7 linked regions of the Homo sapiens genome follow. The protein of the gene in region 2 purifies or fractionates together with the protein of the main gene of each other region. This does not show direct contact. Each region holds a gene or a part of one and is shown on either strand. Other genes may lie near its edges. The genes, in order: FGFR1, TNFRSF10B, NDFIP1, STX3, RIPK1, SCAMP1 and CKAP4.

The links.
Region 1: the proteins of TNFRSF10B (region 2) and FGFR1 purify together in Homo sapiens (affinity purification with mass spectrometry; 3 studies listed by BioGRID and IntAct, with this or other methods). This does not show direct contact.
Region 3: the proteins of TNFRSF10B (region 2) and NDFIP1 purify together in Homo sapiens (affinity purification with mass spectrometry; 3 studies listed by BioGRID and IntAct, with this or other methods). This does not show direct contact.
Region 4: the proteins of TNFRSF10B (region 2) and STX3 purify together in Homo sapiens (affinity purification with mass spectrometry; 2 studies listed by BioGRID and IntAct, with this or other methods). This does not show direct contact.
Region 5: the proteins of TNFRSF10B (region 2) and RIPK1 purify together in Homo sapiens (affinity purification with western blotting, with the first as the bait; 3 studies listed by BioGRID). This does not show direct contact.
Region 6: the proteins of TNFRSF10B (region 2) and SCAMP1 purify together in Homo sapiens (affinity purification with mass spectrometry; 3 studies listed by BioGRID and IntAct, with this or other methods). This does not show direct contact.
Region 7: the proteins of TNFRSF10B (region 2) and CKAP4 purify together in Homo sapiens (affinity purification with mass spectrometry; 2 studies listed by BioGRID and IntAct, with this or other methods). This does not show direct contact.

The regions. Positions count from the first base shown.
Region 1 is NC_000008.11:38,423,636-38,427,135, forward strand, and holds part of FGFR1 (fibroblast growth factor receptor 1 isoform 1 precursor), read right to left. Parts: intron 2,611-3,500; coding exon 2,487-2,610; intron 1,065-2,486; coding exon 874-1,064; intron 1-873. UniProt on the Homo sapiens protein: Tyrosine-protein kinase that acts as a cell-surface receptor for fibroblast growth factors and plays an essential role in the regulation of embryonic development, cell proliferation, differentiation and migration.
Region 2 is NC_000008.11:23,059,032-23,062,531, forward strand, and holds part of TNFRSF10B (tumor necrosis factor receptor superfamily member 10B isoform 1 precursor), read right to left. Parts: intron 1-3,500. UniProt on the Homo sapiens protein: Receptor for the cytotoxic ligand TNFSF10/TRAIL. The adapter molecule FADD recruits caspase-8 to the activated receptor.
Region 3 is NC_000005.10:142,125,779-142,129,278, forward strand, and holds part of NDFIP1 (NEDD4 family-interacting protein 1), read left to right. Parts: intron 1-3,500. UniProt on the Homo sapiens protein: Activates HECT domain-containing E3 ubiquitin-protein ligases, including NEDD4 and ITCH, and consequently modulates the stability of their targets. As a result, controls many cellular processes.
Region 4 is NC_000011.10:59,789,876-59,793,375, reverse strand, and holds part of STX3 (syntaxin-3), read right to left. Parts: intron 2,858-3,500; coding exon 2,790-2,857; intron 1,270-2,789; coding exon 1,161-1,269; intron 278-1,160; coding exon 204-277; intron 1-203. UniProt on the Homo sapiens protein: Potentially involved in docking of synaptic vesicles at presynaptic active zones. Apical receptor involved in membrane fusion of apical vesicles.
Region 5 is NC_000006.12:3,102,994-3,106,493, reverse strand, and holds part of RIPK1 (receptor-interacting serine/threonine-protein kinase 1), read right to left. Parts: intron 2,270-3,500; coding exon 2,179-2,269; intron 1,073-2,178; exon of another isoform or gene 1,013-1,072; coding exon 443-1,012; exon of another isoform or gene 1-442. UniProt on the Homo sapiens protein: Serine-threonine kinase which is a key regulator of TNF-mediated apoptosis, necroptosis and inflammatory pathways.
Region 6 is NC_000005.10:78,423,117-78,426,616, forward strand, and holds part of SCAMP1 (secretory carrier-associated membrane protein 1), read left to right. Parts: intron 1-3,500. UniProt on the Homo sapiens protein: Functions in post-Golgi recycling pathways. Acts as a recycling carrier to the cell surface.
Region 7 is NC_000012.12:106,241,521-106,245,020, reverse strand, and holds part of CKAP4 (cytoskeleton-associated protein 4), read left to right. Parts: intron 1-3,500. UniProt on the Homo sapiens protein: Mediates the anchoring of the endoplasmic reticulum to microtubules. High-affinity epithelial cell surface receptor for the FZD8-related low molecular weight sialoglycopeptide APF/antiproliferative factor.

The sequences.
Region 1 (3,500 bases), about 15 Mb from region 2:
GACTTCAAAAGTCCAAAGCATTTGATTAAAAAAAAAAAAAAAAAAAAAGAATCACTGCTTCAAATGGAATGTTCTATTTGTGTTTAACCCACTCCCTCCAGGACTGGAGCAGGGGTTGTGAGTGGAGACAGTGGCCAATGACCTACAGAGCAGTTTTAGCACCAGCAGCAAAGAGAAGAGAAGGGAGGGCCAGTATATCTCTGAGACAGCTAAGCTAGGGGAGGATGAGGTCTAACTCTGGGACAAAGAGGTAAACAACTTTCCCAGCTTCTGGTTCCTTCCTGTTGCGAGATCCACTGGAGATTTAGGCAATTACCTTCCCTGGATTAATGGAGCATTCAGGGACAATGAATGTCTGGGAGTGAGAGGAAAAAGGAAGAAAATGCCATTACTCCTCGTCCTCATATGGCTTAGAATTTATATATGGCATTTGTTTTTCCAACTCTTCGTAAGAGATGCTCTTATCATGCACCCCATTTGCCAGAAAGATCGTACGTAACTCAGGACACAGGGCTAAGACTGGGAAACGCTTGGTGGAAAGGCTCTGGTTTCGGGCAATGAAAAGGCAGGGGTCCAAATGCCTTCCTTGTGTAGCTGACCCCAAAGCCCCAGTGACGTTGCTCTCAAAGCTTATTACAGACCAGCACCACCCATCCCTGCAGCCCTCTGTTCCCAGCTCACCTCCACTTTGTGACCTCTGTTACTAGTCCTGGGGGATGTGGCTAGATCCCTACTGAGATGGAGTGTGTGTGCCTGAAGCGTGAGGAATGATCCCATTCGGGGGCAACTGAGCCTGCCCACAGGAACTTGAGCCCCCGAGACAGTGGTCTCCTTCCCAGTAGACTGGCCCACGAAGACTGGTGCCATGATTACCTTCAAGATCTGGACATAAGGCAGGTTGTCTGGGCCAATCTTGCTCCCATTCACCTCGATGTGCTTTAGCCACTGGATGTGCGGCTGCGGGTCACTGTACACCTTACACATGAACTCCACGTTGCTACCCAGGGCCACTGTTTTGTTGGCGGGCAACCCTGCTTGCAGGATGGGCCGGTGAGGGGACCGCTCTGTGGAAGATGGGAGAGGAGGCACTTGTCATGGGGACCTTGCCATGGCTAAAGAGGGGTGGGCTCACCTGCGCCCCACTTGGCTTTCCCAGTGATGGGTTGTAAACCTCCCAGCACTTCTGCTGAGCCCAAGCCTCTCAAAACAGAGCTGGGGAAAGGGACACCCTCTCTTCAGGCCCTAAGCCATCAGGATCCTCCTCCCCAAGGCAGTCATCATATTTACAGTCACAGTAAGTCGCTCATGCTTTAATGGAGAACCTTCTAATTCAGTTGCACCCCCAGACCTCAGCACAACCTGCTCCTCCTTAAAAAACCAGAGTCACTTTGACTCCTGCTATTCAAAGTGTGGTCCACGAGCAGTGCTACCAGCATCCCCTAGGAGCTTGTTAGAAACGCGGAATCTCAGATCTTACCCCAACCTCTTGGATCAGAATCTCCTTTTTACCTTTTTTTTTTTTAAAGGCAGGGTCTCACTCTGTCACCCATGCTGGAGCACAAGGGTGTCATCATAGCTCACTGCAGCTTCGAATTCCTGGGCTCAAGTGATCTTCCCACCTCAGTAGCCTCAGTTAACTCAGCTGGTACTACAAGTACATGACACTGCACTAGGCTAATTTTTAAATTTTTTTATAGAGACAGGGTCTCACTGTGTTGCCCAGGCTGGTCTCACACTCCTGGCCTCAAGCAATCCTCCAGCCTTGGCCTCCTAAAGTGATGGGATCACAGGCGTGAGTAATCCCATCATGCCACCTGGAGCTCATAAGCCACTGCTCCTGGCCACAATCTCCTTCTTAGACCATATCATCATAATCAAGAAGAACACTGGCTGAGAGATTCTGTACCCAATGATCTCTAGGGAGTGAGTTTCAGAACTCCTAGAAGGAAAAGGTTGCGGTAATAGCTCCAAGAGGCTCAATGTTCTTCCCAGAGTCTCCTGTGATGCCCTGAAGTTGGCACAGGTGTGCAGTTCTGCATTAGCAAGGTGTCTGACCTCTCTGAGCCTATGCGCCTGTGCTCCTGTGCAGGGCTAGACTAATACTGCCCACCTTGCAGGTGTGCCATGAGCATTACAGGGCAGGTATTTAAGGAGCCTGGCATCTTGCTAGCATTAAGCGACAGCTCCTATTACGCTACATTTAACACCTCTCCAACAACGCCTCCTTCAGGACAGACTCTGAACAGCACCTTCAATTTCACAGTGACAACCAGCTTTGACCGTGTTACTGTCTGATCTTAACTCTATTTTACAGATAAGAAAAGTGAGGCTCAAAAGGGAGAAGTGACCTGCTCAAGGTGACAAAGCCAAGAAGTGCCAATCGCTATCCTGACTCTGCCCCTAAGAAACCTGGACACCCCGGCTGTGTTCTCCAAGCCTGGCTCTTCCCACTAAACTCATTCCTCCTGCTGCCTCTGCCCTCTTACCCACGACATCCAGCTGGTATGTGTGGTTGATGCTGCCGTACTCATTCTCCACAATGCAGGTGTAGTTGCCCTTGTCAGAGGGCACCACAGAGTCCATTATGATGCTCCAGGTGGCATAACGGACCTGAGGGGAAATGCCAAAGGGATACATTGAGGGTCCAGAGGAAAATGCAGGCCCCATGACAATGTCGGCACCCCGTGGCACCTGCCCTCCATATCAGAGCCTGGTGGCACAGGGCCCCAGGCTGCAGGGTTGGCTAGGACAAGGCGTGGATTGCCCCCCTACCAGCCCGTTCACACTCTGCAAGCTGGCAGATGGGGTGTAAAGACTCCAGAAGTCTCCACTGTGACGTTCAAGATCATTCGTGATCCGGACAGATGTGCCTTCTGCAAACACTCCCAAATACACCAAGAATGTTCCCAACTGTGCACCTCTCCTATTACACTAAGAATCCAGCCCCCACTGTCCTTGACAGCTCATTTCAAAAACCATCTCCTCCAGTCCAGTCTCTGGTCAGAACTGTGCTCACCCTTTCCTCTCTGCCTACCAAAGCACTGATCACAGTCTACTTTTTACGGTAGCTGCTCATGGACATTTGCCTCCTATCAGACTGCAAAATTTTTATGGGCAGGAACGCTATCTTGCAGCATTTAAAGCATGGTGTCTTGCATGTAGTGAGTGCATGGTGAATTAATTTAAAATATTTCTGGCTGGGTGCGGTGGCTCAAGCCTGTAATCCCAGCTCTTTGGGAGGCCCAGGCGGACAGATCACTTGAGGTCATGAGTTCAAGACCAGCCTGGCCAACATGGGGAAACCCCGTCTCTACTAAAAATACAAAAATTAGCTGGGAATGGTGGCTGCACATCCCAGGTACTCGGGAGGCTGAGGCAGGAGAATGGCATGAACCTGGGAGGTGGAGCTTGCAGTGAGCCAAGATGGCACCACTGCACTCCAGCCTGGGTGACAGAGTGAGACTCCGTCTAAAAAAAAAAAAAAAATGCTTACACCCTTT
Region 2 (3,500 bases):
GCATCCAACATTCTACTGTTGGTTTTTATGAATTTGACTACATTAGGTACCTCAAGTGGAATCCTATTTCATTTGTCCTTTTATGAATGGCATTTTACTGAGCATGTCTTTAATGTTCATCCATTGTGTAGCATGTGCCAGTATTTCCTTCCTTTTCAAGGCTGAGTAATACTCCATTGTATGAATATACCACATTATCTATTGATCTGTCCAACTTGAGTTTCTTCCACTTTTTGGCTATTGTGAATAATACTGCTATAAACGTGGGTGTACAAATATCTGTTTGAAACCATGCTTTCAATTCTTTTGGACGTATACCTAGAAGTGGGAATGATGGATCATCTGCTAATCCTGTTTTTACTTTTGAGGAACTATCATACTGTTTTCCATAGTGGCTGCACCATTTTACATTCCCATTAACAGGGCACGAGGGTTCCAACTTCTCTACAAATTTGCTAATGCTTATTGTGTGTGTGTGTTGTTTTTGTTTTTTGAGACAGAGTCTCGTTCTGTCGCCCAGGCTGGAGTGCAGTGGTGCCATCTCAGCTCACTGCAAGCTCCGCCTCCTGGGTTCACGCCATTCTCCTGCCTCATCCTCCCAAGTAGCTGGGACTACAGGCGCCTGCCACCACGCCGGGCTAATTTTTTTGTATTTTTTTTTTAGTGGAGACGGGGTCTCACCATGTTAGCCAGGATGGTCTCAATCTCCTGACCTCGTGATCCGCCTGCCTTGGCCTCCCAAAGTGTGGGGATTACAGGCATGAGCCACCGCACCCGGCCTGTGTGTGTTTTTTATAATAGTCATCCTGATGGGTATAGGATGGTATCTCTGTCGTTTTGACCAGCAGTTCCCTAATGATTAGTGATTAAAGTATCTTTTCATATACTTATTGACCATTTGTATATTTGCTTTGGAGAAATGTTTATAAAAATCAGTTGCCCATTTTTAACTGGGTTGTTTTTGTTTTGTTAGATCGTAGGAATTCTTTATATATTTTAGATATTAAGCCCTTATCAGATATATAACTTAAAATATTTTCTCTCATTCTGTGGGTTTTGCCTTTTTATCCAGTTAATAGTATCTTTTGATTCACAAGAGTTACTGATTTTCAAGAAGTCCAAAATGTTTATTTTTTCTTTTGTTGCCTATGTCCATGGTGTCACATCCAAGAAATTATTGCCAAATCCAATGTCACAGAATTTTTATCCTATATTTTCTTTCAAGAGTTCTATAGCTTTAGCACTTACATTTACATCTTTTATTTGTTTTTAGCTATTTTTTAAATACAATGTTAGGCTAAGGTTCACTTCATTCTTTTGAATGTGGATATCCGGTTCTCCTAGCCCCCTTCATTGAAAAGACGGCCCTTTCCTCCATTCAACAGTCTTGGCATCCTTGTGAAAAATAATTTGGCCATATATGTGAGTGTTTATTTCTGGCTCCTCTATTCTATTCCACTGATCGATTTATCTGCTTTTATGTCAGTACCATCCTGTTTTGATTACTGCAGCTTTGTAGGAAGTTTTGAAAATCAGGAAGTGTGAATCCTACTACATTTTTATTCATTTTCAAGATTGTTTTGGATATTCTGGTCCCTAGAAATTCCATATGAATTTTAGGATACATTTTTTCATTTCTGCAAAAATGTCCTTGGGATTTTGATAGAGATTACATTGAATGTATAGATCACTTTAGGAAATGTTGACATAATTAGTCTTATAATTCATAATCATGGCATATCTTTCCATTTATTTTTGTATTCTTTAATTACTTTCAGTAATGTTTTATAGTTTTCATTGTACTAGTCTTCCACCTCCTTGGTGAGTTTACTCCTATTTTATTATTTTTGATACTATTGTAAATGGATTTTTTCCTAATTTCTTTTTTTGAATTGTTCATTGGTAGTGTATAGAAATGCAATTGACTTTTCCAGTTGATTTTGTATTCCGCTTCTTTGATGAATTCATTTTAGTACTACTAAATAAAAATTAAAAACACAGTTTAGATATACCCCACGGCAATTACCCATAACCATGTAGCCAAAACTTAAGACATCCTGATATCCCTGAAACATTAGCTATAATCATAAAAAATCCCACAAAATATAAGTTTTACACCTTCATCATGACATAATATGGTTCAGTGAAGTTAAATCAAGCAGCTATAGAAAAATCAGCTTAAACAGCTCTGATTGCCTTTAAAAAGAATATAAATTTATAAGTCAATCATGAAATTGTCAAAATACATCCTCCTTTATAGCCTGTACTATACCTGCTGTAAGGCAAGTTTCTTACCACTTGGTTTGAAATCTCCCAGATTGCAATCTGTACTGTCTTTTACTGAACAACAATAAATTTCAAAATTTTAAAAATTTAATATTATTTTATTTTTGGCAGTTTAATTTTTTGTGAAATCTTTTGGATTTTTTACCAGTAAGATCATATCATCTGAAAACACAGATTATTTTACTTTTTCCTTTACAGTCCAGATGCTCTTATTTCTTTTTCTTGCCTGTTTTGGCTAGAACTTCCAGTACTATGCTGAGTGGCAAAGGTGGGTAGATATCCTTATGTTGTTCTTAATCTTAAAGGAAAAGCTTTCCGTCTTTCAACACTGAGTATGATGTTAGCTGTGGGGTTTTCTTACATGGCTTTTATGATGTTGTGGAAGTTTTCTTCTATTCTTAGTTTGCTGGGTGTTTTCATCATGAAAGGGCTTTGAATTTTATCAGAGGCTTTCCCTGTATCAACTCAGATGATCATGTGTCTTTTTCCCCCTTCATTCTATTAATGCAATGTATTACATTGTTCAGTTTTCATTTGTTCAAACATTCTTGCATTCCGGAAATAAATCCAACTTGGTCATGGTGTATAATCCATCTAAGGTACTGTTGAATTCTCTCTGATAGTATTTTGTTGAAGATTTTTGCATCAGTTAGGGATACTGGGATATAGCTTTATTTTCTTGTAATATCTTTATCTGCTTGGGTATCAGAGCAATGCTGGCCTTACAGAAAGAGTCAAGAAAGGTTCCCTTCTCTTCAAGTTTTTGAAAGAGTTTGAGAAGTAGTGGTATTAGCTCTTCATTAAAAGCTTGTTAGAATTCACTAGTGAATTCTGTCAGTTTAATTAATAGTATTGAAGAATCAATGTTGGTTTTGTGGATTTTCTCTATGGTTTTTCTTTTTTCTTTTTCTTTCTTTCTTTGAGACAGAGTCTCACTCTGTTGCCCAGGCTGGAGTGCAGTGATGTGATCTTGGCTCACTGCAACCTACATCTCCGGGGCTCAAGTGATCCTCCCACCTCAGCCTCCCGAGTAACTGGGATCACAGGTGTGCTCCCCCGGGCCAGGCTGCTTTTTATATTTTTTGTAGAGACAGGGTTTTGCCATATCCAGGCTGGTCTCAAACTCCTGGCTTCAAGCAATCCTCCTGTCTTGGCCTCGCAAAGTGCTGGGATTATAGGCGTGAGCCATCACATCCGGCCTCTACTGTTTTTCT
Region 3 (3,500 bases), on a different chromosome or scaffold from region 2:
TCTGTCTTTTTTATTATAGCCATCCTAGTAAGCATGAAGTGGTATTGAGTCTTGGTTTTGATTTGCGTTTTCCTGCTGACTTAATGATGTTGAGCATTTTGTGTCTACTGGCCTTTTGTATATCTTCTTTGGAGAAATGTCTGTTCAAATCATTTGCCCATTTTATAATTGGGTTGCCTTTTTATTGTTTAGTCTCTCTTATCTTGTCAGAATTATTTAAAATATCTTCCCCTAATTAATAACAATTAGATAGAGAATTTTTCTTGAATGTAAATAATTTGGTGATGTTAGAATAACAGAGTTTATATTTACAATATATAAAGTAAATGTACAGGCCACACAAACTTAATGATTATTTCTGAACAGCAGTAAAATAGCATACTCAGCTGTTTACCAAAAGAAATGTGCTTGTTTACTTTTTGTAATTATACTGCCTTGTTTTGGTAGGATTTAGGGACTATGCAGAAGTAGTGGGTTGGTAATGAGAGCTTTAAAAATTGCATTTTAAGGTAAAAGTTTTAGCAATTAACTCTAAGATAGAAGTAGTAAATAACATTCAAAACTAGAGTTCAAGCATTGACCCAGAATTTTCTGATATTTATTTTTAATAACTTAAAGAAGGGACTTGAAACTTACAAGAATTTTCTTGCTGTTTAAATATGACCAAACCAAGAAAAAATTAAGTAGTGAAAATACTTGCAACTTTATGGACTTACTGGATACTTCAGCATTATTTTTCACGTGCTTTGTTTGTTTGTTTGTATGAATTCTGAGGTGTATGTTGATACCTTTTCTCATATATAAGGATTTATGGGTTTTGTTTAGTGTAGGGTTTTTTGTTGTTCTCTCATTCTTAGTAAATATAGATAATCCAAGAATGACTTTTAAGTGCCTTTAGGTCCTGCCATTTGCTACAGTTATAAATGTTGCCCCTTGCTTAGCCCTAATCCTAGCCCCAGCTCTGCTATTGCTTAAAAACAACTCATTTTAGAACTGCTTAGTGAGGAGGGCGGTGGTGAAGCTTTCTTGCTGATTGGGAACTCAAATAATAGTTTAAATCTGTAGGGTATAATGTCTTAAACGTGTTAAATTCAAGTTTGTTTCTATTAGAATTAGAACTATATATGATTTCTGTGTTGGAGATTCATAAAAATGTCATATTTATTTTTAATAACAATAGGACCTAGATACAGAGGAAGGTGATAAGGAGGGAAAAAAAAACGCTCTATTTTATTTTATTTATTTATTTATTTTTGAGACAGAATCTCACTTTGTCGCCCAGGCTGAAGTGCAGTGGCTTGATCTCAGCTTACTGTAACCTCCACCTCCCCGGATCAAGTGATTCTCGTGCCTAAGCCTCCCGAGTAGTTGGGACTACAGGTGCATGCCACCACACCTGGTTGATTTTTGTATTTTTAGTAGAGACGAGATTTTACCATGTTGGCCAGGCTGGTCTCAAACTCCTGACCTCAAGTGATCCGCCCACCTCAGCCTCCCAAAGTGCTGGGATTACAGGTGTGACTTGAGAACAAAACCTTAGTAGCACCTATTTGTAAATAAATGTTTTCTTAAAATTGAAGGTCATCAAGGCCAAAGGCACCATGGCAGATTGTGACATATCTGAAGTAGGAAGAGTTTTAGGGTTCTTCTGGGGAGCCATTCTAGTCTGCTCAGCACATAGAAGGGAGCAAAGGTAATCAGGAAAAGAGTAATGGCACACTCTGGGTGTGAGAAAGTGAAAGGTCATCTGAATTCTCAGGTGATTGGATTATTTATTTCTTAGCGATGGAGGCATAGGTAGTTATAGGTAGTTCTGTATTAAACTCTACTTTGTATGGCCTGTGTAGGTAATTGTATAGCTGTATTTGGAAAAAATGCCATTTAAATCATATTTCAGCCGGGTATGGTGGCTCACGCCTATAATCCCAGCGCTTTGGGAGGCTGAGGCAGGCGGATCACTTGAGGTCAGGAGTTTGGTACCAACCTGGCCAACATGGCACAACCCCATCTCTACTAAAAATACAAAAATTAGCCAGGTATGGTGGTGCATGCCTGTAATCCCAACTACTTGGGAGGCTGAGGCGGAAGAATCACTTGAACCCAGGAGGCAGAGGTTGCAGTGAGCCAAGATGGTACCACTGCACTCCAGCCTGGGTGACAGAGTGAGATTCTGTCTCAAAAAAATAAATCATATTTGAAGTTTAGTAAAATTGGTCAGAAATTATATGACAGGAAAAAAAATCCAGTGTCCAACAGCTATTTATTATCTATCACAGTCACTCAAAGGATATCCCCCCTACCCTTGCCCAACATCTCTGTGCACTGAGAGCAGAAGTTCCCAGATCTGTCCCAGTTTTCAGATCTGTCTCTCTGAGTATCCCCTACAACCCAGATTCTGTGACAGTTAAATTGGACTCGGGCTTCCACTGACCCAGTTGATGGAAGAGACTGAGCATCTTTCCAACTCTAACCCAAACGTGACAATGCCGCGTATTCTTTCAGAAAGTGTCAGGAAAGAGCCCGAAGATCCCTGAGCTCCAGGGACATGGCAGGGAGGCTGCACAGAAGGGTTCCCAGGGGTGGAAAAGGGGAATCTTAAAAATAAATTTTGGAACCAAGTAATCAATTTTATAGCACACTCTAGTTCTAGCGCACATGGTTCCTCCACTTGTTAGTGAATGCCTGACTTGTTGCCCCTGAAGTGTAAAAAGATGTATATTTAAGGATTCCATTGTTCAGCAAGTTATTATGCATGCAGATGGCAGGCACTAAGTGCTTACTCTTTTTGAAGGTGATTGCCTCTCCCCGCGATCCCCCTACATTGCAGTGTTTTGTTTTAAACAGCTTTCTTGATGGAGCCTAATCTTATCACCAGCATTATAGAAATAAGCCAGAGTGAGAAGCCTGTACAGTGAGGTCTTGGGATTATACCATAGTCATAATGGTGTTTTAAATTGTTTTTATTTTTCAATTGAAAAAAGTACACTATTCTAAAGTAGTGAATTTTAGTGGAGCAAACTCTTCACCTGGAAGTGTTTTTTTCCTTACCAAAGTGAAAATTGGTGGTTCTAAGAAGGCTGGAATTTATTTGCACTGTCATCTTTTACTATGGTGGGGGATGATCAAATTTAACATTTCCAAGTTTCCAGGAGACAGGCAGCCTATCTTATAAATATTGTCATAGAAGACCTCTTAACCTCTTTGTTCTTTGGATTTCTGTATTTCTTAGAATTGTCATGCTTCCTTTCTGAGACCTAAATTATGCAGGGGTAACGTGATTACTTTGACACCAAGCTCAGGAAATATAAAACGGGTTAAGTATAAACCAAGCTAGGTTTAAATGAAGTTCATTACTGGCTACAGTATATTAAGGGAACATATTCGAAAAGTCTGTATTTGCCTTTGTTCTTGCTGCTGACTCTTCTGCTTCTTTTGGTGACCTTCCCACAGCACAAGAGTGGTTAGGTGTGAGGAGGCTAAGAATACCTTGCCAAGAGCTT
Region 4 (3,500 bases), on a different chromosome or scaffold from region 2:
AACAGGCCACACACAGACTGTTAGCTACCCCTGCAAGAAAGGCTGCCCCTGCCACAGCCCTCATGCACGCTCCTGGGGAGCTCCTTGCCTCCCTGAACTCCCTGCACCTGCAGCTCCCCCTCCACCTGCTGGACTGCATGAGCTCCGCAGTGGCCTCCCTGCTCACGAGAGGGATGTGCTATCCGAGCACACAGGGCACTCACCCCAGAAGTGAAGATGGCCGGGTTGCCACTCTCCAACATCTCCTCCAGCTCCTCATCGGTTGTCTTTTTGCCAGCTTTGTAACAAAAGAAGTAGAGCGTCAAATATAAGATCACGGTGAAACACCATCTGATAAGGACCCTGAAAATTAGGAACGTGACTTCCCTATAAAGACCGTGGCCTTTACAACACTCCCCCAATTGCCTCCTGACTCATCTTATTTCTGCCCTAATCCAAGCCATCCTTAACACTATCAGCAGTTACCTTCCTAAAGCACTTATCTCATTACATTGCTTCCCAGCTCAGAACATTTCCTTGCCCCATTCACTACACTATGGTGTCCAAGGCCCTCATAACATGCTAGTTCATGGGCAAGCCCTCCCTCAATCCATCCTAACCTTATGCTACTCCAGACACACCCTTTCTCCAGACCCTAGACAACCTGCCACTCCTAAACACACTTGCTCTTTCTTGATTATGTTCATACCATTCCTCTCATCCAAAGCACCTTCCACTCCACGGGGCCCTGCCTTCCACATTACTACATTCCTAAAGGGTATGGCTTTATTTATTTCTCTAATCCTCCCAGCAACTTACACCATACTTTTATCCTCCCAGCAACTTACACCACACTTTTTATTTCTTAAATGTGCTTTGCTGTCAAACAGACAGCAAAATGATACAATGAGTCCACAAGAGAGCAACTGTTTGGCAAGCATTTCCCCTCTATATAGGAGACAATGCTGGACCCCATACAATAAAATTACTTGGGCCTGATAAACACGGTGTCACCTTTCAGCCTACAGCACAGCATTCGGGATGTGCCAGTGGTGCAGGAGCTGCCCTAGACTTAGGCACAAAATGTGCTTCCTGCTTGCTCCACCAGGGCCTCAAAACTTGGGATGGACAACCAGGTGGCAGGAAAGGTGGAGGGCACACGCCAAACCTCAAGTACATACTAATTTCGAGCTGCCGCTGGATTCGCCCTTTGCTGCGTTCTCGGAAGTCCACTTGAGCTTCATTGTATTTGGTCATCACCTCCACAAACTTCCGAGAAAGGACAGAGTGCTGTGGGATGATGTAAAATGCAGTCAGGCCCCAGTGGTTCTGTAACTGTTATAGAACCCCTCCCCACCCCCACATAGCCATCTACAATAGCACTGGACTTGGAATCAAAAAACCAGGTGTCAAACCAAGTTTTTTGTTTCCTAGCTTTGTGCCACTGGGAGAGTCCACTGCCCTTTCCAGAGCATGGTTTCAGCACCAGTTTACTGAAACCGGTTTACTGCTGACCTCACGTGGTAATTGCGAGGCCAGAGGTCATCTCTAAATCTCTGAGCCCTACATCCACATGGACTAGTAGCATTTTTCTGGCACAACACTTGGCTTGCATTCTAAAACTGTCAGATTCCCTTCCCACATGTCATACTTACCAAAGATCCTTGAGTTCTTACGCTAAACTCATCTCCCCAACTCTTCTTGCTTATAAGTAGATGCATTATCTCAACAGCCCTGCATGCCTAAGCTAAAACCTTCCTAATAATTTTTATTCCTTGCTCACCTCTCAGCATCAAGCCCTACTTACTGGTTTCTCCTTTGGAAAATCGCCAATATATATACTTTTTCCAAACCCACTACCACCATACAAATTTAGACCAAAACCCTTGCAAAAACCTAACTAGGGACCTTCCAGTTTCCTGCTTCTTTCCCACTTGTAAACGGCTTTCAAATGGCTACCATAATAATCCTCCTAATATACTGCCGCCTGAAGCAAATGCCTGTAAGTTATAACATCAGATCCAAATTCCCCAGACTGGTCCTCAAAGACCTCTAGAATGTGGCACTACATTATCTACTAAAAATTATGTGTCCACTATCCCACAGCAAACTTTTTTCTACAGAAAGCCTATTGTCTTCACGTCTGCCCCTTACGTCTACCCACCACCACTACCAACCACTGCTGCCAACACACACATATGTGCGTGCCTCACTCCTGCCCCTGTGCCTCTCAGAGAGGGGAAACTACTTCCTGAGGCTGCTCATGTTGGCACTCTGGCCCAGCCTCCTCTGGCTACCCCCCATTCTTCCTGAGATCTTTTGATGCTGAGAGCACCATGCATGTGTCTTCTTATCGCATCCTCCTGCTGGGTCGCATCCTCCTGCTGGGTCTTAGGTAATAGCTTTCCATGCCGCTTCAATGGCATGCCAGTTCTTTAAGGACAAGGATCCTATCTTTGATGACCCCTAAAGTGCCTAGCTCCAAACTGGACAACCAATGACTAACAATTGTTAGAAGACATTAATTTCCTCTCCTGTAAAACAAGAAGGCACGCTAAATCCTAAGCTGTGCTCTAGGAAGCCTGAAAAGCTCTTCAGGGGCCTCCTTAGAGAAGGAGAGTACAGGAGAGGAGCCAAAAGGGCTGGACTCTGGCCCTGACCCCTATTTCAACCTGGAGAGTTCTCCTTTACCAGGTCTTCAAATTGAGTTTCAAAATAAGGATTGTATTAAAAAAAAAAAATCCCTCCACAGTTAAGGGAAAACAATAAGAGATTGGACTAGCTAATCATGAGACCAGGAAAAGTCTTACCTGGGATTTCCGAATCCGAAGGTCTGCCGATGACCTGACCTCATCTTCTTCAATATGCTTCTCCATGCCTAAAGAGGAGAGGAAGGTTATACTTGCAACCTATCTCCGCCTCCAAGAAACATGCTATTCAGTGAAACTTCCTCACTCATTCCCACACATCCAGCCCACGGAGATGTAACAGGTAGGTGTCACCTCAAAAGGTCAGCTCCCAGATGAGCCACAGGACGTGCATTCCACAGCCTTTACGATGACCAGGTTTTGGCATAACAGTTAACAGCATGGGTTCTGGTCACCATGAGACTTAGGCTTGAATCCTTGCCCTGGCACTTACTGGGTGTGACTTTGAAAAAGCCACTTAACCCCTCTTAATGTACCTGTTCTCTCATCTGTAAAACAGAATAACAGTCCCTCCCTCACAATACTAATGTGAAGATTAAATGAGAAGACACATAAAGTGCCTAGCACAATGGCAGGTGCACTATCACTGTTATTACTGGAATCTGCTACTAATGACTCCTCCAGTTAAAATAGTTATTGCAATATACTTGGGGGGAAGAAATGGTAAATTGAGCTGAGCAATAATGCTTTCTCTTCTGATCAATAGCATGCATGCACCAAATACACTGGGCAAGAATGCAGGCTCTAGCAACAGAACTAAGTAAACCTTCTAGGCTCTGGAAGAACTGAATCTATGACAGTAGCTTCATTGAA
Region 5 (3,500 bases), on a different chromosome or scaffold from region 2:
TGGGAGTTAAAAGAAAATTTTTCATCACTAATGGTAGTCTTTGAGCTATATAAGGTCAGAAACAAAAATATCCAAGACTGATTTCTTACCTTCAAAAAGTAGCAAGCAAGGTAAAAGCAAATAAGCAGATAACTTCCCATTTATCAGAGATTGGGTGAAATAGGACTACTATGCACTCCAGGTTAGAGTCAAAGATGCCTGCCAGTCACAAGGACCTGTAACCCGATGCTTGCGGGCATCTGTGATGAATCCTAGCCCCAGATGAAATACTCCCAGACCAAGTGGTTTGGCAGGGTCCATTCCACAGGGGCAATTTGCATCTGGCAGCTGATGATGCCCTCTGTCCCCATTATAACCCACAATCTATAATAGAGCTGCTTGGTTGCTGTATTTTCTGAAAAATAAAAAAAGACAAGCTTGTGACTATCGAAGACCCATTTACCTGTTGGTGGCAAGGAGCTGAATGGCATGGTGGGTGTATTTCCTAGATAGTTGGTCTCAGGCACTGGGATATTATGCAGACTAGGCATATGACTTGGAATTGGCCTGTACCAAACTCTGGGACCTGCTGTTCCTGGATCCAGTGGTCTTGTTCCAAAGCCATGTGAGCTATATAATCCATTGTTCTGATACAGTACTTGAGGTTGGCTGGTGAGCCCTGAGGGCTGGTGCACTGCATTACCATGACTGGCTGCACTGGAATAAGCAGTGCCTTTTCCCTCTGTATTCTGAAAATTCTCGTAAGGTCTTTGCTGTGCAAAAGGGTCATGGGAGACCCTGCGTCTCCTTTCCTCCTCTCTGTTGTAAGCCACATTCTGTCTGGGCTGCTGTTTCGTCTGCCTGTCCATGCGGCTGCCATAAAGATGGTAGTTGGCTTCGTCTTGGAGTTTACTCTGCAGGCTGGGCTCATTCTCTTCTTGTGGGTGCTCCAGGGAAGGAGCAAACCAGGACTCCTCCACAGGACCCATCCCAAGTCCCTGGGAACTGTGCAGTGAACCAGGCTGTTCTGTGGCTGAGAAGAAATGATCAACATTAGAATGGGTGTCATGAAACATTAAAAAGTAAAATAAAATCTGAGCGCCGTCATGAATCTGTATCTCAAAGTAACACACAGAAAACAAGTACGAGACCAGTCCAAAGCATTTAGGAGATGGTCCTCTTCCCACAAGCTTTACAAATAATAATAGGAGCTCCTCGCTGGCAGTAAGAGAGTACTAGGAAAATTATAGCAAGCAAGAGAAAAGCGGCTGTTGCAGGGATGATCAAGGAAAAAAGGGACTTGGTTTGGAGCAGAGAAGGTGGTTGTCTCCTTGGAGCAATTCAGGTGGAAAATAAGATCTGTGGCTGGGTGCGGTGGCTCACGCCTGTAATCCTAGCACGTTGGGAGGCTGAGGCGGACGGATCACCTGAGGTCAGGAGTTCGAGACCAGCCTGGCCAACATGGCGAAACCCCATCTCTACTGAAAATACAAAAATTAGCCGGGCATGGTGGTGCATGCCTGTAATCCCTGCTGCTTGGGAGGCTGAGGCAGAAGAATCGCTTGAACCTGAAAGGCGGAGGTTGTAGTGAGCCAAGATCACACTACTGCACTCCAGCCGGGGTGACAGACTCTGTCTCCAAAAAAAAAAGATCTGCAGCAGCTCTGTCCTAAGCATGTCCCATGAATTCTTTCATTCTTGAAGAGCCCTATGAGAGGAGGAGCAATTATGATTTGATGAGTGAAGTTTAGAAGAGGTTAAGTAATTAGCCACAGATCAGGTAGCTAAGCGGCTTCAGTATCCTATACTCTGCCATCCCTTTTGTTACAGTGAAAAAAGTATCCCTACTTGACCTGAGACCAGCCTCTCTGCTTGTACCCTGGCTGTAAGTCACTCCGAGCTCCTCAGGGACTTTGCTCTCACATATGTCCCCTTCCTTCTTCTGAACTGTCACTTCTCCCCATCAGATATATTAGGCCTTTTGTTCAGAACACTCTATGACTGGTGAGCACACTGTTACTTCATATTTCAAATACATGTAACTTGACTCTCGAATATTATTATAAATTCCTGTAAGGCAGGTGTTCACTTTTATAGTTTCTTCTGTTTCCCATATGGTCCTGAATAGTCTTTTAGAGAGTGGAGTGAATGAGTAACCAAACAAATAAATGAATAGATTTTGACCATAGTGTAATTTACCTGAATTTGACCGGCTTGAAGGTACTGCCACACAATCAAGTTGAAGAGACTGCATTCTCTTCACAACTGCATTTTCGTTTGAATACTCTTTCTATAATTAAGAGCATAAATACACACTTTAGTGAACAGCAGGAAATAGAGTCCCAGAAAATTTTAACGAGAAGAATTCATATTTTCAGAAGGTAGAAATTTCACACAGATCTTACAAGTAGTAATTTTTTAAAATTAATGTTTTTCCCAAATAGCCAAAATGATCTTTAAAAAGAACAAGGTTGTAGGACTCACACTTCCTGATTTCAAAACTTACTACAAAGCTACAGTATTCAAAACAGCGTAGGACTGGCATAAAGACAGGCACATATGCCAGTGGGGCAGAATGGAAAGCCTAGGAATAAACCCTCCTATAAATGGCCAATTGATTTTTGACAAGGTTGCCAAGAGCATTCGATGGGGGAAAACTGAATATACACATATGAAATAATGAAGTTGGACCCTTATTTCATACCATATAAAAATTAACTCACAATGGATCAAAGACTTAATTTAAGGGCTAGTGCCACAAAAATTCTTAGAAGAAAACACAGGGAAAAAGCTTCATGACATTGGACTTGGCAGCGATTTCTTGGTTATGACACAAAAGCACAAACAAAAGTAAAGAGTAAAAATAATACATCAGAATTAAAAGCTTCTGTGCATCAAAGGATACTATGAAAAGAGTAAAAAGATAACCTACAGAATAAGGAAAAAATACTTTGGGAGGCCAAGGCAGGTGGATCCCATGAGGTCAGGAGTTCGAGACCTGCCAGGCCAACATGGTGAAACCTTGTCTCTACTAAAAATACAAAAACTAACCAGGCATGATGGTGTGTGCCTGTAGTCCTAGCTACTCGGGAGGCTGAGGCAGGAGTTATCTCTTGAACCTGGGAGGCAGAGGTTGCAGTGAACCAACATTCTGCCACTGCACTCCAGTCTGGGTGGCGACAGAGCAAGATTCTGTCTCCAAAAAAAAAATAAATAAATAAAATAAAATAATGGGGAAAAAGTTGCAAACAATATATATCTGAAAACGGATGAAATCCAGAACATAAAAAAAAAAAATCCTACAACTCAACAACAAAAAACAAACAACCCAATTCAAAAATGGGCAAAGAACTTGAATAGCAGTTTCTCCATAGAAGATATACAAATGGCCAATAAGCCATGAAGATGCTCAACATCATGAGTCATAGGGAAATGCAAGTCAAAACCACCATGAGGTACACTTTCACACTCCTTAGAGTGACTATAATATAAAAATGGTAAATAAAAAGTGTTGGTAAGAT
Region 6 (3,500 bases), on a different chromosome or scaffold from region 2:
CATTAGGGAATTTGGAGAGAAAATGTATCAGACAATGAAGAAGTAAATTATTACTTAGAAATGGCATAAAGAGAAGAAATGATGAGAGGAGGAGTGAAGGGAAGAAATGATGGGAGAAGGGAAAGGAGAAAAGAACCTTTGGATACATTGAAATATGGGAGATTGGTTGCCAAGGAACGGGGAGAGCTTCTCCTGTAGAGATGGGTTGGAGAGGAATGAAAGGAACATAGTTACTCCTTGCATGATCTGAGTTATTGCTGTTATTTTCTTCGTTATCTAAGCATGGCTCACAAGGCTTTTTCTGTTTTTTGTTAGTTTGTTTTGTTTTGTTTTTTTTGGACATCTAACCTCTGCCTAATGACCTCCATCACATTACCAATATGTTATCGATCTGTGATGATGCTGGCTGGTGGGAGTGAGGATATCTTTATGAAACTTTTCAAAAAAGTGACCTGAGACTAGGGAATTTGGATTTTAAACCTTCTGTTACTTATGTAGCCAAAATAAATGACTAAAAGCCAGCTTTGTGCCTTTTATTTCCTGAAGTCACTTGGTATCTTTTTTTTTTCCCCCATTTTGGCAGTTGAAATAAAAATGCTTGGTGGAACATTTTTACTTGTGGCATTATTGATCCCTAGGCTGAGTTTTTAGCTGCATCTCAGTCTTTTAGAGTATATACAAATATATTAATAATCTGGTTTTCACTGTGCAGAGTAGAAATGAGAGGAATACTTTTTTTTTTTTTGAGATGGAGTTTTGCTCTTGTTGCCCAGGCTGGAGTGCAATGGCTTGATCTCGGTTCACTGCAACCTCTGCCTCCTGGGTTCAAGCAGTTCTCCTGCCTCAGCCTCTCAGGTAGCTGGGATTACAGGCATGCACCACCATGCCTGGCTAATTTTGTATTTTTAGTAGAGACAGGGTTTAACCATTTTGGTCAGGCTGGTCTCGAACTGCTGACCTCAGGTGATCCGCCCACCTTGGCCTCTGCCCACCTCGGCCTCTGCCCACCTCGGCCTCCCAAAGTGCTGGGATTACAGACATGAGCCACTGCGCCCAGCCTCGAGAGGAATACTTTTTATGGGGAAAGTTGAATTAAAGTATTTATAATCATTAATATACCTTCCTGTTATGTATCTTTGGCATTTCCTTATATTGATATATTTACAGGACTTTGTTCTCCGTAAGGTAAACTCATTGTAAAAATCTCAAGGAAAATTATATAGTGAAGTTTCAAATGTATGTGTTTTTAAAAGTTAAGTTTATTAGGTATCAGGATTAAACATGAAGTTGTCATTTTGTTATTTATGTAGTTTACAAAGATTGTAACTTGGGGCTGGGCATGGTGGCTCATGCCTGTAATCCCAGCACTTTGGGAGGCAGAGGCTGGCGGATCACATGAGGTCAGGCGTTTGAGAACAGCCTGGCCAACATGGTGAAACTCCATCTCTACTAAAAATACAAAAAATTAGCTGAGTATCGTGGCATGTTTCTGTAATCCCAGCTCGAGGCAGGAGAATCGCCTGAACCCGGGAGGCAGAGGTTGCAGTGAGCCAAGATCGTGCTACTGCACTCCAGCCTGGGCGACAGAGTGAGATCCTGCCTCAAAAAAAAAGAAGAAAAACAACAAAAAAACCCCAACTTGGTCCTGAATTTTGTACTTCCACAAATCACTAGGCATTATGCAAATACATCAAAATATTAGGTAATTATTAACAAGGCAGCATTATTGTTGAATGTTGTTGAGTAACTATTAGAAACAGACTGAGAAAGAGTATTTGCATAATGCTTAGTGATCTTGGCTTCCCCACTTAAAAAGCTGTGCGGTTCTGAGCACATGCAGTAAAACTCAGAGCCTCAGTTTGTTAGGTTTAAATGAGGGATATTTGTAGAGTTGAAAGAAGGATTAGAGATAATGTATGCAAGTTTTGCATTATAGATGGTGAATAAATGGTAGCTGTAATTAATTTTTAACTTTTTTTGGACCCTCTTAGATTTTATCATTTACATTTTATGATCTATAAGTGAACTGTGATTTCTTATAGATTATATTTTACAGAGCCATTATTTGTAGCTTTGAAGACAATTTTCAAAGTAGTACTTTCTCCCACTTTTTAATTATGATGTATTTAATGCATACCAAAGAATACCTGAAACACAAGTTAAAAGGCATAATAATGAGTCATCTATGAACTGTGAGCCCACTGGTCAATTTAAGAAATGGAACATTATCAATACCGCTGAAGCACTGGTATGTTTCCATTTCCCTGCTCCATAGGTAACCATTAGGTTGAATTTTGATAATTTTTGCTCATTCTCTAGCATAATTTTAGTTTTTCATATATATTTGTACTCCCAAACCTTTTTTTAGCTTGTAGAGAATATTTTTAAAAGTATTTTAATATTTATAAAAGTGATACATCTTTGTATACAGGTTATTTTATATGCAGTTTTAAGTAGCTGTGCAAATACTTTTTTGGTAAAATAAAGACCTGTTTTAATCCTTTTCTACCAACAGTTCTTGCCGCTGACTTATGTGGGCATTTACCTTTATATTTTAAATAATGATCATATACTGCCATTCCTTGATTTTGTTTAAGTAGCTTTATTAGGATATATTGTATATACTATAAAATTCACCCACTCTTATGGGAAAATTCAATGATTTATTTTATTTTATTTTACTTTAAGTTTTGGGATACATGCGCAGAATGTGCAGGTCTATTACATAGGTGTACGTGTGCCATGGTGGTTTGCTGCACCTATCAACCCATCATCCAGGTTTTAAGCCCCGCGTGCATTAGGTATTTGTCCTAATGCCCTCCCTCCCCTTGCCCCCCACCCCTGACAGGCCCTGGTTTGTGATGTTCCCCTTCCTGTGTCCATGTCTTCTCATTGTTCAACTCCCACTTAGAGTGAGAACATGAGGTGTTTGGTTTTCTGTTCCTGTGTTAGTCTGCTGAGAATGATGGCTTCCAGATTCCTCCATGTCCCTGCAAAGGACATGAACTCATTTCTTTTTTATGGCTACATAGTATTCCATGGTGTATATGTGCCACATTTTCTTTATCCAATCTATCACTGATGGGCATTTGGGTTGGTTCCAAGTCTTTGCTGTTGTGAATAGTGCTGCAATAAACATATGTTTGCATGTGTCTTTATGGCAGAATGATTTATATTCCTTTGGGTACATACCCAGTAATGAGATTGCTGATCAAATGGTATTTCTGGTTCTAGATCCTTGAGGAATTGCCACACTGTCTTCCACAATGGTTGAACTAATTTACACTCCCAACAGTGTAAAAGCGTTCCTATTTCTCCATGGCCTTGCCAGCATCTGTTTCCTGATCTTTTAATAATCACCATTTTAACTGGCATGAGATTGTATCTCATTGTGGTTTTAATTTGCGTTTCTCTAATGACCAGTGATGATGAGCTTTTTTTCATGTTGGCTGCATAAATGTCTTTTGAAAAGTGTCTGTTCATATCTTTTGCCCAATTCA
Region 7 (3,500 bases), on a different chromosome or scaffold from region 2:
ATCCAGGTTAATTCTCTGTGCTTCTCCCTGCCCCTCACTTAGTCCCTTCTTTTTGCTTCTCACCCCTTCTCCATCACAGCTATGTATATAGATCACTTTCTTCTTTGGGGCTCAGTTTTCCCACCCACACAATGAGAAGAGGGCTCCATCCAGACTTTTAAGAATCCTCATGGCTCTAAAATAATTGAAATAGTGACTTCTCTGTTTTTTATTTCATATTTTATATTTCGTAGAGACAGGGTCTCACTCTGTCACCAGGCTGGAGCGTAGTGGTGTGATCATAGCTCACTGCAGCCTTGAACTCCTGGCCTCAAGTGTTCCTCTTGCCTCAGCCTCACAAGTAGCTGGGACCACAGGCATGCACAAGCACGTCCAGCTATTTATTTATTTTTAAAATTTTTGGTAGAGACAGGGTCTTGCTGTGTTGCTCAGGCTGGTCTCAAACTCCTGGGCTCAAGCAGTCCTCCTGCCTTGGCCTCTCAAAGTGCTGGGATTACAGATGTGAGCCACTGCGCCTGGCTGACCACTTTTCTTTTAATTTAGTAGTGTAATCAAACTATAATTTAATGTGTCATATTTATGGTGCACTTATTACGTGCCAGGCACTATGCAAAGCATTTGAAAATGCATCATCTGCTGACTCTCACAACAACCCCAAGAGGTAAGTACTATTATCAGCCCTCTTTGACAGATGAGAAAAGTGAGAGGCTAAGTAACTGAGCGGTGATATAGCTAGTTAGTGGCTGGGCTAGGATCCAAACTGTTGTCTAACTCCTGGAACACTATTAACCACTCCACTATTTAGCCTAGTACATAGTAGGTGCCCAATAAATGTTCCATTGACTTGAGACTCAGAACATGGCCAGAACAGTGTTAGATTTGCCATAGAATGTGGCCACTCTGTCTGTATCTTTGGGGTGGCCAGTAAATAAATTATTTTGCATTGAGGAACCAGTTGTGTTTGGTTCTCTGACAGCCTAAGTTTGAACCCTTTTATAACTCTTGGTTACTTGTTGGGGGGTGGAGTTTGGTTCATAGCAGGGAAGTATACTTACAGTATTCATAATTACTGTTCACTATGGGTCAGCCATGCTATTAAATGCTTTATAGCCATGATTTCTGTTCTCCCAGCCACCCTCTGAGGCAGGTATCATTTAGTAGTACCATTTTGCAGATGGGGCAGCTGAGGACTGGCTGTGTAACTCATTCAAGGTCACACACAGACCATAAGTTGTGTAGCTGGAGTTGGGTGCCCACCTGTCTCTTGTTCTCCAGATGTTCTTGTTATTGGAGAATGGCTCAAATCTTCTGAATGACTGTAGCACAGGCAGAGAGGCAGGCCTGTCCTTACCCAGAGGATTCAGCAGGCACAAGTGGGTCCTGGGCTTCAGAAAGTGTTGGCAGTTCATCTCTAGGCCCTCTGAAGAGCCTGTGTTGCCCTGGCAGATCCAGCGTGATATAAAGCAATGGTAGGAGTAGGCTTAGGCCTGGTAGGGACAGTTTAATGAGACTAGGACCTATTTGTGGAAGAGTGAGCTCCCTGGTCATATTTCTTTGTTTTCTTGTCTAGATTCTCTGGCTAAGGAGTCAGGGCTTCAGGAGTTGGCAGTCTCTCTTCCAGGTACTCAGGGCACTTTGAAGTCAGTGCCCCTGCCTGAGCATATCACATACTGGTTGAGAGCTCAGGTTCTGAAATCAAGCATTTTGGGATTTTAACGTTTGAGCCTACCACTTACCAGTTTCCTCATTAGTAAAATGGAGATCACTGGGAGATACCAACTCATGAGATTATGGTGAGGGTGTAATGAGATGATGTGTCTGAAGTCCTTTGTATAGTTATTGGTCCATCACAAGTGTCCGGTTGAATGTCAACCACTGCTAACACCCAGTCCCCCCACCCTAGGGTGTAACCTTGAGGGCAAGGATCCTAGCCATTATTTCATCTCTGGCATCTTGCCTGTTGCCTACCACTTAGTGGGCATCCCACATTTGTTGGGGGAACAGATATTTCCAATGCATATTGATGATAATGAATTATTTGCACATAAAGATGCACAACTCATAGTCCCCTCAGTAGGGGAACACCATGTTCTTTTTTATAGTGTTGGGGGTTGGATATAATTTCTGTTCTAGTCTCCTTCCTAACCATTTGTGAAGAGCCAGCGCAGGTCAGGGCTGACAGGGATCAGAGGAGACATGGACCAGCTCATCAGGCTTTGCTTGAATTCCCTCATTATGTGATTCCATCAAAAAACACTGGATGAAAGCCTGCCATGTTGAAGGTACTGTGCTCACCTGCTCACACCTCTGTTCTGAGTGCTATGCTTAGAACAGGCAGACAGTGTGATTTAATAACGTAGTTTCAGAGATGGGCTCTCTCCAGTACCTTCACAGAGTGTCCTTTAAGACTCAGGTTGTATTTGGTTGGGCAGGGAAATTGTCTAGTATTCTGGAGCCCCTGAGAACCTTATTCTAATCTGCCTTAAAACAGACTGATGGAGCTAGACAGCACTTTAGAGACCTATTTGCTATTGGATGAGGAGCCTGGGACTCGGAAAGTGAATGTGACTCTTCATGCTTACAGAGCTGGCTACTGGTGGGGCTGGCACGAGAGCTGAGGGATGTTGTTCACATCCCACTTCAGTTTATCCTCCTGCCTTTTGGCATGGGTTGAGGATATTTCTAGGAATCTGCAGACTTACCAGGTGCTTCAGAAGAAATGGGAAATAATCACGATGATAATAGCTGCCATGTATTGAGTGTTCACTATGTGCTGGGCACAGTTTAAGTACTTGATATATTATTAATTCACTTAATCTTCATACAGACAATCATATGAGTCCGGTACTGTTTTCCCATCCTTCAGCTGAGGAAACCAAGGTACAGATAGGCTAAATAACTTCCCCAAGATCACACTGCTGGAAAGTGTTAAAGTTATGATTTGAACCTAGGCAGTCTGGCTCCAGAGACCGTGCTGTTTTATTTTTTAACTTTTTATCATGGCAGTGTTCAAGTGTAAACAAAAAAAGAATATAATGAACCTCAGTTTCAAGAATTACTGATGTTTTGCCATTCTTTTTTCATTCCATCGGCACTCTTCCCCTCTGCCACTTTTTTTTTTTGGCTGGAGTTAGAAGTCTGACTGTGAACCACTCTCTTGCCCTATGCGTGCCCAGCCTGGTCTCCCTTCTTCTCCAGATGCTGTTGGTGTTGCATGGCCATAGCACAGGCAGAGAGGTTGTCCTGTCCTGAAGCCAGAAAATTTACTAGGCAGAAGTGGGTCCAGGGCTTCAGAAAATGTTGGCAGTTCAGCTTTAGGGCCTCTAAAGAGCCTGTGTTGTCCTGGCAGATCCAGGGGATAGTGAATTAGGAATTAGTTTTAAAATGAGGCCAGGCGCGGTGGCTCACGCCTGTAATCCCAGCACTTTGGGAGGCCGAGGCGGGCGGATCACGAGGTCAGGAGATCGAGACCATCCCGGCTAAAACGGTGAAACCCCGTC